Linked DNA regions of Homo sapiens. The protein of the gene in region 1 interacts with the protein of each later gene in a pairwise test. Each region holds a gene or a part of one and is shown in the gene's direction. Other genes may lie near its edges.

Evidence for each region.
Region 2: the proteins of ADARB1 (region 1) and STOX1 interact in binary tests that used the Homo sapiens proteins (3 or more experiments, as listed by UniProt).
Region 3: the proteins of ADARB1 (region 1) and STAU1 interact in binary tests that used the Homo sapiens proteins (3 or more experiments, as listed by UniProt).

What each region holds. Positions count from the first base shown.
Region 1 is NC_000021.9:45,072,145-45,075,963, forward strand, and holds the start of ADARB1 (double-stranded RNA-specific editase 1), read left to right. Parts: upstream 1-2,435; 5' UTR 2,436-2,649; intron 2,650-2,906; exon of another isoform or gene 2,907-2,954; intron 2,955-3,819. UniProt on the Homo sapiens protein: Catalyzes the hydrolytic deamination of adenosine to inosine in double-stranded RNA (dsRNA) referred to as A-to-I RNA editing.
Region 2 is NC_000010.11:68,825,629-68,829,228, forward strand, and holds the start of STOX1 (storkhead-box protein 1), read left to right. Parts: upstream 1-1,902; 5' UTR 1,903-1,995; coding exon 1,996-2,305; intron 2,306-2,348; exon of another isoform or gene 2,349-2,641; intron 2,642-3,600.
Region 3 is NC_000020.11:49,118,682-49,122,500, reverse strand, and holds part of STAU1 (double-stranded RNA-binding protein Staufen homolog 1), read left to right. Parts: intron 1-2,372; coding exon 2,373-2,519; intron 2,520-3,819. UniProt on the Homo sapiens protein: Binds double-stranded RNA (regardless of the sequence) and tubulin.

The sequences.
Region 1 (3,819 bases):
TTCTTCCAAGTCAGGGAGAGCGTCACAATAGAAACCGTCTCTGTGGAGAGGATGGCACCTGAAGCCATGGAATAGGAAGGGAGCATCAGAGGCTGCTGGCTGGTCCTGCAGAGCCGCCTGAGAGGCCTGTGGGAGCAGCAGAGGGTCCCGGCCTTGGGCGCCATCCGCTCTCTGCTGCTCTGGAGGGAGAAAAAGGACAAGTTGAAACTTGCACAAGCAGCCTCCATTCTGGGGAGTTCCCTTGTATTCCCCACACCAACCCGCACCTCAGCGAAGGCCTGTGGAAGACTTCTGCAGTGACAGCCCCGATGAACCATGCTTGCCGTGCCCGTCCCCTGTGCGGTGCCTCACGTCCACTCAGGCCCCGGCCATCTCACCCTCCTGGGGAGATGGAGGGAAGCACCATGGGGATTTGCTTTTTCTTGCTGCCGACGGAGCCCAGCCACCACGGGAGGGAGGCCCGGCCAGCCTGCGGTGGGTGGGTGACATGTGGCCCGGATCTGCCCGGGGCGCCTGCCTGTAAGTGGGCCCAGCAGACACCCCATGGAGCCGAGGCAAGCCGTCCCAGCTGAACCGGCTTAAGCTGCAGGCCCACAGAGTCATGAGCAGTGAAGAGAGGTTTTCGCCCTCTGAGGTTTGGGGTGGCCTGTTACACAGAAATACACACAACGTCCTCAGGCACGTATCTCTTTAAGAATGTGTCCCGAGAAGGCGTCCCAGGAGTCTTGATTTTTATTTAGCCGTCCACGGTTGCCCCTTTGGGTGCTTCGCCTTCAGATGGGGTGAAGGGCTCACTTGTTAGCTGGCTGGCCCCAAAGACAGGCTTGTTTTCCACCAGGCAGTGACTGAAGCCGGCAGCCTGCTGCATACCGCGGGCCTTCCCCTGACCTGTCCGGGACTGCGGGCTGGCGGCTGACACCTGCGGAGTGCTTACCGCATACCAGGCTCCCAAACTTCCATCTGTGTTCGTCTTTTAAGTTTTGTTGTTTTCCAGAGTCGGAGTCTCAGTGTTGCCCGGGCCAGAGCGCAGCGGCCATTTATAGGCGCGGACCTCGGCCTCGCACACCACAGCTCCAGCTCTGAGACACAAGCGACCCGCACCCCCCCACCGCCCAGCCCCAGCCTCCAGACTGGCTGAGATCACAGTGTGCGCCACCCCATCCCTGGCTTGCGATGGTCTCTTACTCCCCACTTTACAAGGGAGGAAAGAGGCCGAGGGCAGAGTGGGCCGCCTGAGGTTTGGAGGCCAGGGCTAGTACAACCTCAATTTGACCCTGGAACCTGCCGCTTCCCCCACCCAGGTGCGGGACCCACCCGCTTGTCCACACCTGGCTCTGCCCACCGCCCCCGGCTGCTCCTCTGGGCTCAGGTCGCCGCGGTCAGGAGCTGCCAAGTTTGCCTATCAAACTTTATCTTCGTGCAGAGAACTGCAGCCTGGAGCTGGTTATTCCGGTCAGTGAAAACGTTGCATTTCTACATATGCTTATCATCATCTGTGTAAACATTTCTTGGTATAACTGTGGAACAGTCAGTAAATATAGATAAATCGAAGAGTAGGTCTATTGCATATGCTATAAAAAAATGCTTTTACTATCAACCTAAAACAAACAAACAAACAAAAAAAATCAAACAAAACCACCATCACCTAAACGTTGGTAACTGGAGCAGCTGCTAGTGTCAGTGCGGACTAAACAGGAGACGGCGGGAACCGTGTCCAGCCAGGGTCCTGGGCCGCGACCTGGTTCTCCCGGAGTCTACAGTGAGGATGACGGGCGGGGAGAGGGGGCCGGCGGGACCCGCGTGTCCCAGGCAACTCCGGGAGAGGGAGAAGCAGGGGTGGCTCGGCGGGGGCTCGGCGGGGGCTCGGCGGGGGCTCGGCGGGGGCTCGGCGGGGGCTCGGCGGGGGCTCGGCGGGGGCAGCGCCCGCTGCAGGGAGGAGCGCGGGGGCCCGGGAGCCTGGGCAGCACCGCGAGACGCCACCTCCGCAAAACGCAAACGCCAATCGCCGGGCGCCTGCGGTCCCAGCTACCAGGGAGGCTGAGGCGGCAGGATCGCGTGAGCTCGGAGGTCCACCGCGCTCCAGTCTGGGCGACAGTGAGACCCCGTCCCCAAAACGAAGGCGGGCAGAGTCTCCTCAGCCGCGCTCGGGCGGGCGGCGCCGCGACGCCAGGCCGGTCCCGCGCTCTCGCCCCACGCTCCGGAGCCGCCCAGCCGCGGTCTCTCAGCTCCGGCCGCGCTCCAGCCCCAACGGCCCCGCGCCCGTCCGCCGCAGGTGGTCGTGAGGGAGGTGCCACAGCTCCGGCTGCCCACGACAGACACGGGCGCCCCAGCGCGCGCACGTCCGGCGTCGCTGCGCCGCCCCCGCCCCCTCGGCGTGCGCGCGCCCGGCGGGCCGGCGGGGGCGGGGAGGGGGCGGAGCCGCCGGCGGCGGGGCTGAGGCGCTGAGGCGGCCGTGGCGGCGGCGGCGGCGGCGGCGGCAGCGGCGGCCAAGCGGCCAGGTTGGCGGCCGGGGCTCCGGGCCGCGCGAGGCCACGGCCACGCCGCGCCGCTGCGCACAACCAACGAGGCAGAGCGCCGCCCGGCGCGAGACTGCGGCCGAAGCGTGGGGCGCGCGTGCGGAGGACCAGGCGCGGCGCGGCTGCGGCTGAGGTGAGGGCGGCGCGGGGCCGCGGCGGCTCGGGCGGGCGCGGGCTCCGGACCCCGCGGTGGCGGCGTTTATGTAAGCGCCGGGCAGGGACTGGTGGTGGGGCCGGAGCTGCGGGCCGTCCCGGGAGCGGAGGGCGCCCGCGGAGAAGCGAGGGTGCCGCGGCACCGCCTCGCACCCACCCTCCTGGGTCGCCCGTCTGCTCCGGCGCTCGGCTCCCGGAGGAAGCTGCGCCCGGGCGGCCCCGCGTCCCCTCCCGAGGGCGCCGAGTCCGCGTGGGATGCGCCGCGCTGCGCCGCGGGGAGGGCAGGTGCGCCGGGACGAGGCTGCGCCCTGGGGACCGAGACTGCGTTTTGGGGAGGGGACGGTGTGCCCTGGAGATCGGAGGCTGCGCTGGGGACGAGGCTGCGCCCGGGGACCAGAGGCTGCCCCGGGTACAAGGTTGCGCCGGGGAACGGGAGGCTGCGTTGGCAACAAGGCTGCGCCTGGGGACGGTAGGCTATGTCCCTGGGGAGACGCTCCGCCCGGCATGGGACGCTGCGCCGGGGGACGGCAGGCTGCGCCCGGGATGAGGCTGGGCCCGGGCAGGGGAGGCTGCCTTGGGAGGGGACGCTGTGCCACGGGAGTGGAGACTGCGTTGGGGACGAGTCTGCGCCCTGGACGGTCCTGCGTGTCCTTCCGAGGGCGCAGTGTCCGCGCGGGATGCTCTGCGCCGCGGGCGGCCCGGGCCAGGGAAGTTCCTGCGGGTGCCGGGCGTCTGCAGCGATCGGGAGCAATCTGGGGCAGTTGGGGGCCCGAGGTGACTTTTGACGTGTTCACATCAGAAGGAAAATTATTGCGTGGTGGATGGGTGCGAGGGAAGGTGTCAGATTGGGCTGTGGACGCTGAAACGTGTTGGAGTCCCGATTTACACGCTGGAAAACCTAACCTAAAACGTGTTCCTGTCCAGGTTTCTATGTCGGAGATCTGCACCGTGGTGTTTAGTTCCCAGTTAATATTTTTGGTCAGCAGGTTTGGGCTGTTACTTCTGATACAGGCATTTTACTTCCTTCTTACTAACCATTATTGCATTCCGTTCTCGAAGTATAACGAAAAGTGGCATGATATCAAACTTGTTTCTTTAACGTTTAACTCCATAATTAAGATGATAGAACCGTAGTTTTTTTAATTGAGAA
Region 2 (3,600 bases), on another chromosome or scaffold:
TAGTGTTCAATAAATGTTAGCTATTGTTATTATCTATCATTTATTGCGTGCTTACTGGGGGCAGGGTATAAATTATCTCCATGTTTATAGTTTTTATTGAGGACTGATGAGCTGAGGGAGTGGGAAGTCTGGAATGACTCCTAGATTTTGCCAAGCACCTCTGCTCCCTCACAGTACTGTGTTCTGGTACCAAGCATAATGCCCTTCCTCTTCTTCTTCTTTTTCTTTTTTTCCCGAGAGGGAGTCTTGCTCTGTCACCCAGGCTGGAGTGCGGTGGCACCATCTCAGCACACTGCAACCTCCGCCTCCGCGTTTAAGCAATTCTTCTGCCTCAGCCTCCCTGAGTAGCTGGGATTACAGGCGCGTGCCACCACATCCGGCTAATTTTTGTATTTTTAGTAGAGATGGAGTTTTACCTTGTAGGTCAGGCCGGTCTCGATCTCCTGACCTCGTGATCCGCCCACCTCGGCCTCCCAAAGTGCTGGGATTACAGGCATGAGCCACCGCGCCTGGCCCCTTCCTCTTCTTTTAACATGTTGTATTTTCAAATGGGTTTTTTTCTCAAGGAGCCCTCCCGCTGGGCCTCAGTCTGGGTCCTCAGTCTGAATCGGCCTTCACTGCTTTGAGGCACAGGTCACATTCTACCGCCACGCATCACAAGCTCTCCCTTTGCCTCTGGGGCAGGACGGTGTCCGTCTTTTCAGAATGTCCACATCTAACCCAGGGCAGAATCCTACGATATCACCACAGCGCCACACCAATCAGGGTGGCACCTCTCCACTCTGCTTTCCTCAGCACTCAAGAGTATGGGATATCCCCGGGGTAGGACCAGATCCTACAACTTCAGAAAGTCATGGATGAGGCCGGCCGGGCGCCGTGGCTCACGCCTGTAATCCCAGAACTTTGGGAGGCGGAGGCGGGCGGATCACGAGGTCAGGAGATCGAGACCATCCTGGCTAACACCATGAAACCCCGTCTCTACTAAAAATACAAAAAATTAGCCGGGCGTGGTGGCGGGCACCTGTAGTCCCAGCTGCTCGGGAGGCTGAGGCAGGAGAATGACGTGAACCAGGTAAGCGGACCGTGCAGTGAGCCGAGATCGCGCCACTGCACTCCAGCCTGGGCGACAGAGTGAGACTCCGCCTCAAAAAAAAAAAAAAAGAAAGTCATGGATGAAAGGGTCCTTAGTTTATTATCCTGTGAAATAGTAGCTGGGACATTTCTGAGGCCCAGAGAAGGGAAATAACTTGAATGAACAGGTTGGGAGCAGGCCAGGCGATGTGGCGGGCACCTGTAGTCCCAACTCGGGAGGCTGAGATCAGAGGATCGCTTGAGCCCAGAACTCAGTGAATAGCCACTGCACTCCAGCCTGGGCAACACAGCGAGACCTCGACTCAAAAAACAAAAATAGAAACAAACAACTAGCTTAGGCGCAGAACTGAGACTCAAACCTAGGTTTCCTGCTCAACCCCCACACCTCCCAGGCCCCCGCTGACACCCTCAGGCTGTTCCTCGTGGTTGCTAACTTGGAACGGCCCCAAAGCCAGGTCGAAGGCGAGTCTCCCCGCCCTGGGGACTCCTGGCGCTGCAGTTCGCACGGCGGATGGACGCAGTCAGGTTCTCCAGGGAGCTGCGAGGAGCCCCAGGACTTGGAAAAACCCCAGAGCGCGCCCCTGGGGGAAGGGGAGCTCGGGACCTCGAGGCGGCTGGAAGTCGAGGGCATCGCCAGGGGGCCGAGTTGGGCCCGGGTGTGGAGAACGAAGCCGAACGCTGGGCTCTGGATTCTCCTCCAGAGCGCTCCGCCGGCCTAAGCACGGCCGCCCCACCCCCGGCCCGCCAGGCGCAGTCGGCCCCGCCCCCTGGAGCTCCGTTCCCCCGGCAGCCAGCGCCGCGGACCCGCGCGCAGTCGGCCGATCCTCCCGCCGAGCGAGCGGCGTCGTAGCCGCCGCGCTCGCCGAGGCCCTGCGTTGCGGGCTCCCGGCCGCCGGCGAAAGCATGGCCCGGCCCGTGCAGCTGGCGCCGGGCTCGCTGGCGCTAGTGCTGTGCCGGCTGGAGGCGCAGAAGGCGGCGGGGGCCGCGGAGGAGCCTGGTGGGCGCGCGGTGTTCCGCGCTTTCCGTCGCGCCAACGCGCGCTGCTTCTGGAACGCGCGGCTGGCGCGCGCCGCCTCGCGGCTGGCCTTCCAGGGCTGGCTGCGGCGGGGGGTGCTGCTGGTGCGCGCGCCCCCCGCCTGCCTGCAGGTGCTGCGCGATGCCTGGCGGCGCCGGGCCCTGCGGCCGCCGCGCGGCTTCCGCATCAGGGCGGTGGGTGAGTGCGGGACCCGGAGGGGAGGGGCGTCCCGGCCCGTGCAGCTGGCGCCGGGCTCGCTGGCGCTAGTGCTGTGCCGGCTGGAGGCGCAGAAGGCGGCGGGGGCCGCGGAGGAGCCTGGTGGGCGCGCGGTGTTCCGCGCTTTCCGTCGCGCCAACGCGCGCTGCTTCTGGAACGCGCGGCTGGCGCGCGCCGCCTCGCGGCTGGCCTTCCAGGGCTGGCTGCGGCGGGGGGTGCTGCTGGTGCGCGCGCCCCCCGCCTGCCTGCAGGTGCTGCGCGATGCCTGGCGGCGCCGGGCCCTGCGGCCGCCGCGCGGCTTCCGCATCAGGGCGGTGGGTGAGTGCGGGACCCGGAGGGGAGGGGCGTCCCGCGCCAGCTGTGAGCGCGGAGCTCCGCGCTGCAGGGGCGAGCGCGGCCCCGTCTTCTGCCACAGAGGCTAGGCGCTGCTCTGAGGGCCCGGGGGCTGCGGTTGGGCGGCCGGTCCGGGGGGCCAAGACGCCCCGGAGACGTTCCCTCCCGCTAGGACACTGCAGCTATAGTCCCCAAGGTGTGCCTGGCCGCTGCTAGTACTGGCTCCGGGCTGAGTCCGTTCCTCAACTCTTAAAGCCCGTGGAGTGCACAGAAGGAACTTTCTGCTTAGAAAAGTGATGCTCTGGATAGAGAGGCTTTGGGCTAGGGGCCACTGTCTAGGCTCCACCGGGGCGGTTAGGAAGGGTACCCCAGGGGAATGGCCAGAGTTTACCATATCTGGCAGCTTTATTATTATTATTTTTTGAACTACAGATCTGCAGCGAACGGCATTCTGGTTTTCATGTTCTGCAGTGTGGTGGTCTTGGGTCGGGACCTAGCAGCTTTGGGGTCGTTAACTTCTTGGGGAAAACAAGTAGCGTCTCATCCCTTTAGCTGAATAGACAGGATTCCACCTTCCCAGTCTTTTCAAACTTAACTGTTTGTTAGACAACAGCAGCTTTTTGCCTTTTTTCATAAAATAGCTTCTCATTTGAGAAACTAAACCACCGCACCCGTGAGTGGTCTCTGACTCTGGGCACTAAACCCAGGCAGGTGTGTCAGCTCCCTGTAACAACCTTGTTCTTGTCTGCATTTATGTGAGGCTGCAAGGGCCATTTGATGGTGTGTTGACAAGTCACCAGTTGTTCCGCGCTTAATTTTCATTCTTACCAAGGAACCCCTCTGTATTAGTCCATAAATCATCCTCTTCCATCCGAGGAGAAGGAGTCGCAAATAAAAAACATTTGTTTGGCCAGGCGCGGTGGCGCTCGCCTGTAATCCCAGCA
Region 3 (3,819 bases), on another chromosome or scaffold:
ACACCAGCACTACTGCTGGGTGCACTGGTGGGAATGTGGGTGTGTTGCACTGAAATTTGGAAGAAAGAGTCCTGGGGTGGTGGGTGCTGGGAGAAGTTTTTCTTCATTACATCTCCTTGAAGGTTTATGACATTGCTCTTTACCAAAGGTAAATTTTGTAAGTAGTATCAAGAGATCTGTTCCTCTTCCTCCTAATTCTTATGGAGTCTGGAATCTAGGGTTACCTCTTCCTTAGATTGGGTGACACTTCAGATTAGTATGGAACATTTCTTTGTACTTAGCTGATTAAGTTCAAAGCTAAGTGGTCATTTCACATAGGCAGCTTAACTTAATTGTGATTTGAATTTAAGTGCTTTCTGATGTAAGACAGAATCCTTATCTCTTGTATAGCAATTTATAACTTAGAAAGTTGACCTCGTATATTTTACCTATGCAGTCAGAAGGTAGGAAAAGAATGATCCTTTCATTCCACAAAAGGAAGTTGCAGTTTGCTGAGAGGATCAGTAGTTTGCCCAAGATGAAATGGCTGGTAGATGGCCAGGTTGGAATTTAGTCCCAGGCCAGGGAATGGTTTCTTTGACTCTCTGAGTCTTGTGACCTGGGCTTTTGGTTTTAGCAGCCAGGTGCCTGTTATTACAATCAACTTGGAAGGGGGTTGTAAGTAGTGATGTGCTGGAACATGTTTAACAACCAGCTCTTCTTCGGGGAGGGTGGTTTGGTGGAATGAGCTGAATATGTATGTTATAGATATATACATGGGTGTTATATACATGTGTGTTATAAATTTTACTGACACAAAGGATGTGTGTTATAAATTATACTGACATATATGTGTGTTTTATAAATTTTACTGACAGAAAGGATGTGTAGTACAATTTATAAATAATATACACTTTATTGTAAATTTCATACATATTTCAGTGTGACAGTTACCAACGATAGTGTTATAAAATCAGACAGCACATAATGGTTTATTACTATCCAGTTCAGCAAAGGTGTTGCTCATGTCACTGACAAATACATACTGTAGATTTGAGATTTTGGTTGTAGCATGAATACTGGTTGAGATACATTTTTTTTGGGGTAGAGGGGAATGGAGTCAACTTGCTCTGTTGTCCAGGCTGCAGGGCAGTGGTGTGATCTCGGCTCACTGCAACCTCTGCCTCCCAGGTTCAAGTGATTCTCCTGCCTCAGCCTCCCGAGTAGCTGGGATTCACGGGTGCCCACCATCACGCCCAGCTACTTTTTGTATTTTTAGTAGAGATGGGGTTTCACCATGTTGGCCAGACTGGTCTCGAACTCCTGACCTCAGGTGATCCACCCACCTCAGCCTCCCAAAGTGCTGGGATTACAGGCGTGAGCCACCACGCCCGGCTGGTTGATGTTTTTTATTTATGTTAATAGGTAAGATGAAAGTAAAACAGGCTGGGCTTGATGGCTTACGCCTGTAATCCCAGCATGACGGATCACTTGAGGTCAGGGGTTCGAGACCAGCCTGACCAACATGGTGAACCCTCATTTCTGCTAAAAATAGAAAAGTTAGCCAGGCATGGTGGCACACGCCTGTAATCCCAGCTACTCGGGTGGCTGAGGCAGGAGAATCGCTTGAACCTGGGAAGTGGAGGTTGCAGTGAGCTGAGATCATGCCATTGCACTCCATCCTGGGTGAAGAAGTGAGACCCTGTCTATCCCAAAAAAGAAAAAAGAAAAAGTGAAACAATGAAGACATGTAACATCACTCATTTGTAAATGATATGAGTGGCTTCTCTGCAAAATTAGATAATTTTCAAAGACGGGAAGATATTTCAGTTTTTTGTGCTAGTTACAATGTAATGGCTGCAGACTTCTCATGCTTTTAAGATTAACCTGCTTTATTAACCTTTTCATCATTGTAGGTTTAGAGTTAGACAATAAACAGCTTATGATCTTTGATACGTAGCATTTGTATATTTCTGTGGTATAAATAGTCCCACCATGGCTGATTTCAAGCTCTCAAAGTGATACTTCCAATGGCAATGCTGGGAATAGATGTACAGTAGTTCACCATCACAGACTGTTTCCATTGTACAAATGCAATAGCTGGGCAGACCCTCAGAACACAGATGATTATAAAATGCAGTCAAAAATTACCTCTGTTAAAATAATTATCAGCTTATATAATTAAATGTTTAATACTGGCTGTGTTTAACAGCCAGCTTCCCAAACTCCTGACTATTTAATAATTAGCTCTCAGAGACAAGGAGGCCAGGTTCGGGGCACTGCTGTTATCTTGCTTCTGACCATAGTTGGTTATTTTGCTGACACACCAATTCCTGCCTGGTTGTTATTCTGAAGGTTTAAGCACTGGTCTGTGTTTTGACTTCTTTGTGCAGGTGAAGGTTGGAAACCACACTGCAGAAGGAACGGGCACCAACAAGAAGGTGGCCAAGCGCAATGCAGCCGAGAACATGCTGGAGATCCTTGGTTTCAAAGTCCCGCAGGCGCAGCCCACCAAACCCGCACTCAAGTCAGAGGAGAAGGTGAGTGCTGTGGGCTCTCTGATTGCAAGATGGTCTCTCGCCTCACCCTAGGGAACTGGGGCACCTCCAGGGGCAGGCTTCAAGGCAAGGCTTTATCTGCCTGACAGTTCAAGGAGTCCTGCTGAGGAGTGTCTCATCCATTTGGACCATAATGTGCTCAGAGGGGCCTCGCATGTCCACTGGCCCCAGGAGGCTCTGGGTTAGATCGTTGATTGTGTCAGTATCTTTGTGGTCTGGGGACGCTTTGTGGAGGGCAGCTTGCTCCTCTCTATTTGTAGGATGAGGATGAAGGGTAATTAGGACTGAAATTACTAAGTGTGATTTGCACTCTAGAAATGAAGCCTGTGTGAAAGATTTATAACTGTTAGGCTTTCGTTAATTGTGGAATAGGCTTTGATTTTTCTGGCAAAATAAGACAGTGTGACAGTAGAGACAGGCCAAATCCAAAGTTTAGGTTTGGGATTTCTTTTTTCCTATGTGAGTTAAACATCAGATGAAAATAATCCCCTGTTGAAAAATTCACGGCCAGGTGTGGTGGCTCAAACTTGTAATTTGGGAGGCTGAGGCCTTGAATCCAGGAGTTCAAGACCAGTCTGAGCAACATGATGAAACCCTGTCTCTACAAAAAATTAAAATATCAGCCAGGTATGGTGGCTTGTACCTGTAGCCCGAGCTACAAGGCTGAGATGGGAGGATTGAGCCTTGGAAGGTCAAGGCTGCAGTGAGCTGTGATCATGCCACTGCACTCAGCCTGGGCGACAGACCCTGTCTCAACAACAACAAAAAAGGAACGTAAAAAGAAAAATTCGTGTCTGCCAGAAGTGGTAAGCAGGACCTCAGCAAAAGCCATGGCTGACCTTCTTCTTTCCCATCACTGAATGGTCCTGGTGAGATAAACTTGAAATCAGGCCTGATTCATTCATGTCTGCCAGTCATATTGACAGAAACAGCATCAGTCATGGCCAGTTAATAACTGACTGGGACCCCAGATACCACCAGTATAGATCTTAGACTTGGCTTTAGGGTTTTTCATTTCAGAATCTTGTAGGACATTCAGAGTGTCCTTTGTTACTTCTTAGAAAGGTGATGTTGTGTTAGACAAAATTCTTAGGTAATAACATTTTCCCCGTAAGGGTGTTAATTTTGGAATGTCACCTTATTTTTTAATTGGATATCAGCTCCAGGAAATATTCTTGATTTATTTGTTTAGCTTCAGTCTGAAAGCTTCTTTCCCCACCTTGGTGGGCTCTACCGTCTAGCATCTCTGCTCTTTCTGGTTAAATGCTTCCCGTCTTCCTGT